2 linked regions of the Homo sapiens genome follow. The protein of the gene in region 1 interacts with the protein of each later gene in a pairwise test. Each region holds a gene or a part of one and is shown in the gene's direction. Other genes may lie near its edges.

What was found. Proteins that work in one complex are often made in the same cells at the same time.
Region 2: the proteins of MRPL37 (region 1) and SREK1 interact in a two-hybrid assay, tested with the Homo sapiens proteins (one large-scale study listed by BioGRID).

Annotation. Positions count from the first base shown.
Region 1 is NC_000001.11:54,213,667-54,217,166, forward strand, and holds part of MRPL37 (large ribosomal subunit protein mL37), read left to right. Parts: intron 1-2,474; coding exon 2,475-2,678; intron 2,679-3,500.
Region 2 is NC_000005.10:66,147,300-66,150,799, forward strand, and holds part of SREK1 (splicing regulatory glutamine/lysine-rich protein 1), read left to right. Parts: intron 1-3,500. UniProt on the Homo sapiens protein: Participates in the regulation of alternative splicing by modulating the activity of other splice facors. Inhibits the splicing activity of SFRS1, SFRS2 and SFRS6. Augments the splicing activity of SFRS3.

The DNA of each region.
Region 1 (3,500 bases):
TGCTGAATCAGAAACCCTGGGGTTGGGGCCCAGCGATCAGCGTTTTAACAAGCCCCCCAGTTATGCTGCTACAAGCTCGAGTTTAAAAACCACTGAACTGGCCGGGTGCGGTGGCTCACGCCTGTAATCCCAGCACTTTGGGAAGCCGAGGTAGGAGGATCACTTGAGGCCAGGAGTTCGAGACCAGCCTGGCCAACATGGCAAAACCCCATCTCTACTAAAAACACAAAGATTAGCTGGGTGTGATGGTGCATACCTGTAATCCCAGCACTTTGGGAGGCCAAGGTGGGAGGATTACTTGAGGCCAGGAGTTCGAGACCAGCCTGGCCAACATGGCGAAACCCCATCTCTACTAAAAATACAAAGATTAGCTGGGTGTGGTGGCATGCACGTGTAATCCCAGCTACTCGGGAGGCTGAGGCATGAATGTTGCTTTAACCCAGGAGGCGGAGGCTGCAGTGAGCTGAAAGATTGCACCACTACACTCCAGCCTGGGTGACAGAGTGAGACTGTGCCTCAAAGGAAAAAAAAGAAAAAAGAAAAGGCAACCACTGAACTGAAATTTCAGAACATGGCATTATTTAATCCTTGTAGTTTTTTAACCCCATGTGGCAGATGCTATTAGCTTCATTTTATAGATGGTGAAACTGAGGCTCAGGGAGGCTAAGGAACTTGCCCAAGGATACACAGCTAAGAAATTAGTAGCTGTCAGATCTTTATGTGACCTTGTGTCTTTCCAATCCTAGGACAATTGTCTTTATTCCCATTCTCTGACTATATACTTCCTGAAGGCTCCGAAAGATTAGGTAACTTGTCCAAGATCCCACAGCTAATGAGTGGGGAAGCAAAGCTTGGAACATGATCTCTCCAGTTTTGAAGGATGTGCTACTCCCAACTCAGGCAGGAGAAGGAGGCAGAGATAGTCACAACCCTGGTCCCAGGCCTGCAGACTCGCTGTAGCCTCTGTGCCAGCTATTGCCATCAGAGTCTGGGTAGCAACGATACAACTAATTACCACCCAGTTGGGTAGGAGTGGAGGCCTCCTTCAGCCCCTCCAGGCACAAATTATTCCTGGGGATGTGAAGTTGAGCAATTATGGGAAGAGCCTCCATGTAAAAGGTAAAATTGCTGAGAAATTTATGTACTACCTGCAGTTTTATTGATCTGTAGAGGGAGATAAGAGTCAATACAGAATTCTCGGCTAACACTTACAGGTACTTTTCTTTTTATTTATTTTTCATGCAGCTAAGAACAGGTATTTCTAAGGCCAACAGCCCCAGTGTGGCCCACACTGAGGTCTGACATTAGGTATTCCTAATGCCAGATTCAGCCCCAGTGGGGTGAACACAGGCAGCATTTTTGAATCAAGGATGGCCTGCTTCATGGGGCCTGCCTGTTGGATCTTTGTTCAGTGAGTAGCAGTCACCAAACTGGATTGCTGCAAAGTCTCAGCAGGTCACCATATGATTTATCTCCCAAACTGGGACACCATTGAGAATAATGAGGTGCCGCTATTAGATACACTGGGACACCAGGATTAAACCAGAACAACAGGGCTTTCAGTGACTTAATAGCATGGAGTCTGATCCCCATGGGTGACCTGGAGCAAATTATACCACCTCTCTGAACCTCAGTTTCCTTATCTGTTAGTGGGAATATACCTCTAGATTTATGAGAGTAGAGGTGACCTGATGTAAAACTGGCAAGATGCCTGGCACCTGAGAGGCCTTCAGTAAATGATTTTAGGTGTTACTACTATTACCAAGTGGCAGTAACTAGAAGAGATCAGTAGCAGGAGTTGACTGGTGAAATCCTGGCGCTGGCATGGCTGGAGTGGATACTCCAGAAACATGGCCCGTGCTGAGTTGCAGCGTCAGCATGAAGCCCAGTGAATGTGACTGCCAGGCCCTTAGAAGCAAGGCAGGGGCGTGGGGGAAGGGTGTGGTCTGGCATGAGCCTGTTTGGGTTCTACACCACCCATCTTCGTGACTTCCGGCAAGTCACTTTACCTCACTGAGTCTCAGTTTCCTCATCTGTCAAATGGGGTGAGAACTGAATGAGATTATATCTATCCGTTGACCCTCCGGATTCACATTTGATAGCTGATGTCACTGTGGTCCTTATCAAGTAACGCCAGGAGTTTGAGGGATTTCTGTCATTAACCCCCCAGCTGGCCTGCCTGAACTCTGGCTTGCCTGGAAATCGCCTCTCAGTGGCAGGAACTATTACTTTGATGTGCTCAAATAGAAGAGCAGGCACCCTGGGGCCATGAGGCACAGCCAGCCTGGGTGAAGGAAGGCCCGGCCCTGGACAGTGCCCTGAACTCCTCATTCTATTTTAATTGTCCCAAAGAGAAGCCATTCAGTGGACGTAGGTGGACGTTGTAAAGGGAAGAACTAGAAGCTGCCTGGGCCGTGCTGTTCCTTACACTCCACAGCTTCTGATTTGTTTTCCTTGTCCCCTTTTCCTCTCAGAATGATGCCAAGGTCTTGGAGCAGCCCGTGGTGGTGCAGAGCGTGGGCACGGATGGACGTGTCTTCCATTTCCTAGTGTTTCAACTGAATACCACAGACCTGGACTGTAACGAGGGTGTCAAGAATTTGGCCTGGGTGGACTCAGACCAGCTCCTCTATCAGCATTTTTGGTGTCTCCCAGTGATCAAAAAGAGAGTGGTTGTGGTAAGTTGAGCCATCTCCTGCCTGACCCAGGAGGGCCATGCCTCCTCCTACCTGGTGTGAGCCTCAGGTGGGATTGCTGGGGTGCTCTGTGAGGAGAGCCCTGGCCCTGGGGACTTCCCACCCGGGATCTCTGCCTGGAGGACTCCTTCAGTCCCGCCCCTACCTAAGGCCCTGCCCAGTGCTCCACTCCAGCTCCTGCTTCCCTTTGCACCCTCCAGCCAATCCAGCTCCTCGCAGCTCCCAGGGTGCTCTGCGGCTTCATTAGCTCTGGCCTTTGTAGGTGCTGCTCCTTTTGTCTGGGAGGCTTCTTGCCTTCTCCCCTCCCCATTACTGTTTGTCAGGCTATCCTCCACTTGTCCTTCCAGGTTTAGCATAAGTGTTTCTTATTTTGGGAAACTTCTGACCACCACCGTCCCCATCCCAACCCTCACTTAAGTGCCTCAGGTGGGCTGCCCTGGCCTCCGTATTCCCCCATCAGAGCACGATCACATTGCTGTGCGTAGAACCTCTTCACATGTTTTTTTTCCTCCACCAAACAGAACTCCAAGCTCCTAGATCCTTGAGGGCAGGGTCTGGGGATGCATTCGTTTCATCCCACAGATACGGAGTTCCTCCTGCGGCACCATTGTGCTGCACCCCACTGCTCAGCTGACGGGGTCCAGGCCTGCTCTCTGTGTAGTGGGCAGTAGCAGTATCTAAATAAATTCCTGATAGAGCATCAGGCAGTAATATGCACCCTGGAGAGACCTACAGCAGGGTCAGGACTGCGAAAGCGGAGTAGGGGTACTGCCTGCTCTGGGACCAACCAGGCCCCACACAGGC
Region 2 (3,500 bases), on another chromosome or scaffold:
ATAAATCAATCTCACAGCTTGTGAAACTTTCTTACACAAGTAAGAAATCCTTGTTGTTTTTTCAGTAAATTTTTCATTGAGGTTTAATGTACCTACAGAGAAGTGCACAGGTCGTAAGCGCAGGTTGATGAATCTTTACAAAGTAAACATACCTATATAACCAGCACACAGTCAGGATTATCTGCACCCTGTAAGTTCCCCGTGACCCCCTTCAAGTAACTAAAACCTGAAGGGTAAGCCTACCCTGATTTGTAACACTAGACATTTTTCCTGTGTTGATTTTTTTTGCTTGTTGATTTCCGTCACTTCTCTGGTCTTCTAAAGTTCTAAGAAAGAATGGAAAAATCTGTCAACTACTTAAGTTTATTTAGTTAAAAAAAATGTAACCACTAAAGCCACTTTATAGAAAATAGAGAAAAGGAAACAGCACTTGTGATCCCACCACTCTATCAAAGCTTCTCTCCATTTCCCTGTAGTCCTTTTCACATGCGTTAATAAATATTGGACATATTACCTCATTGGTTTTAAAAATAATTGTATAGTGCTATCATTATGTAATATATGTAATATAGCGTAATCAAAGGAATCACACTGTTATTTTACTTTTTTCACTTTGTCATAAGCATTTTCCATATTGCTGTCTTATTTATAGTAATATTTAGAGATTAGTAATTTCTGAGTGTATTGTGTGTTTTTGAAATTCTATTGTTGGATATTTTGATTGCTTTTTTTGGTATTACAAATTAGTGGATTTTAGCTAGAAATTGGGAGGTGTGTCTTTTTGATTGTCAACAATGATTAGAGGGCCTGTTGGCATTTAGTGGGTAAATGTTAGCAACTTATAAGTAGTCTTAAACAGGATGAATTGTGCTAATCCATAGGGCCACTGAAGCCCAGTGAAGAAACCCTGTTATAAATAATGCACCAACTAATATTTTTGTACATGATACTGTATGCTTCGCTCATGTTTTGGCATATCTTTTTTGGTAGGTCCTCTGTCCTCTAAAGGATGTGTATTAATGTACTGATAAAATACTGGACATATTATTACCTCATTGGTTTTAAAAATATTGTATAGTGCTATCATTATGTTTAATAAAAGACAAAATAACCAGTTAGGGCCAAGAAATTTAATTGATGCCCAAAAAGTTGGTTCTTTGGTTTCTGCGTGTACTACCCACTGAAAAGTTTTAATTTTTTTTGAAAAATTGATAAGATTTTGTATTTTAAAAAACCAAAACTTTAAGTCAACGAATGAGGTCAAACTAAAATCTGCTAAATTTGGGTACTGCTATTTTCTTCTTAAAATTTATTTCTAAAATTTTATTTATTTATTTAGTTAAGTAGAGACAGGATTTCACCATGTTGCGCAGGCTGGACTCAAACTCCTGGGCTTAAGCAGTCCGCCTGCTTTGGCATCCTAAAGTGCTGGGGTGACAGATGTGAGCCACTGTGCCTGGCCTGCTAGTTTCTATAGATGCATACATTTAGACCAAATGGAATATGTCATCCCTTTTTATGTGTTTTTTTTTCCCCCAAGGTCTTCTTCTGTTGCCCAGGCTGGTCTTGAACTCTTGGGCACAAGCAAGTACACATTTGTTTGATGAGCTATCTGTTTGTTGGCTTGCTACTCTAATAATTTTAGTTTATAATGGTCAAAATAAAATAGTGTTACCTTGCCTGAAATTTTCAAATATTTGCATTTTTATAAAGTAAATGTAAGTTGGTCTTTATTTTAAGGAAGGTAATTGGAAATGAAGATTAAGAAAATTGGCCGGGTGCAGTGGCCCACGCCTGTAATCCCAGCGCTTTGGGAAGCCGAGGCAGGCGGATCACGAGGTCAGGAGTTCGAGACCTGTCTGGCCAACATAGTGAAATCTTGTTTCTACTAAAAATACAAAAAATTAGCTGGGTGTGGTGGTGTGCACCTGTTATCCCAGCTACTTGGGAGGCGGCAGGAGAATCGCATGAACCCGGGAGGCGGAGGTTGCAGTGAGCCGGGATCCCGCCATTGCACTCCAGCTCGGGTGACAGTGTGAAACTCTGTCTCAAAAAAAAAAGGAAAAGAAAAGAAAAGAAAATTGCTTAAATCAGTGGAGTAGCCGTACCTAATATCCATACTTCCATGATGATGCTGTTCAGAACAGACCAACATTTTTTTAACCAGTTCCCAGGCTTCTGAAATGTTGGTGGCATGTCTTCAGATGTAGTTGCATTACAAACCAGACTCAGAATTCCTATTCCTGTGGATGTTTTAAGTTTGAAATGAAGTAGATTTCAACTAGGGGTATTTGGAAATGTGGTTTTAGTTTTCAGTAGTGCTTACTTAACATTTACATTCCTTCACAAAAGGATCCGTCAGTTTAGGAAATGTTGCTTCAGAGATGACTGTCAGGCTCTTGAAGATTTCAGAGGCAAAAGAGTTATTCCTGTTGGAATTGCTAGGGCTTTAGTAGGTTATTATAATCACAGATTGTTTTTGGTTAAAAAGGACAGAAACAGTGTTACCCAAGGTACATCGAGAAGAGACATTATTATTAAAAAGAAAGATTTCACTGCGTTGAAAAATAAAGATTGTAGTACAGCCAGGCCTCATGGGAACTAGTACTGGGAACCAGAAGGGTATCAGCAATCAAGATGACTATCTGCTTCTTTCTCTGCAGTGGTTATTATCAGTTCAGTTTGTTTCTATCTACTCCATTTCTTTGCATACCTATTATGTACTCATCATCTGGCTTACAGCTTGCTGTAAGTCACCTTCCAGCCCAATAGAGAGAACCTGATTGATTGATCTAGCTCATTTGGTCGAGCCTGACTTCCAAAATTAGAGGTTGCTGGTCAGCCAGGGAAATGGGCCCTTGAGACTGGTGACTAATCATTTATGGCTAGAGAAGCTTATAGGATCTTTTGAGGGTTTCACATGAGGAAACCGTGCTAAGGCCTGTGCCAAAGCAATATAGAATGTCTTGGTAGCACATGTAGGAGGCTGTACCTAATGATTGCGGTATCTTAAGATGGTTTACCAGAAGACTTGGAAATTTGAGCCTTGAAGAAGAGTGGAATTAGCATTCAAAATGGGAGTTAGCGAGGACATCGTAACCAAATGGAACAGCATATATGAAGACCCATATGTTTGTGATGTGTTGCTGGAACCACAGGTATCATTTTTGGGTGCATTTCCATGACGAGGCAAGAACAGAATAGTACCTTTAAGGAAATTTGATATGTGGAGTGACACAATGAAATTTAGTGTTTAGAAAGATCACTGTGGGAGCTTTGGTGGAAGACCATTAATAAGGATTTGAGGTTGGGTGCTGTGTGATTTCTTAAAAGCTGTTAAGTAATCCACATGAGAAATGATGAGGGTCTGAATTAAGGCATTGGTAATGAGAATGATGAAAAAACTAATGTGACAAATATTTACAAGGTACTCTAAGCAGGATATATTGACCAATTGGATGAGGACAGAAAGGTCAAGGATAATTTATCAGTTAGAATAA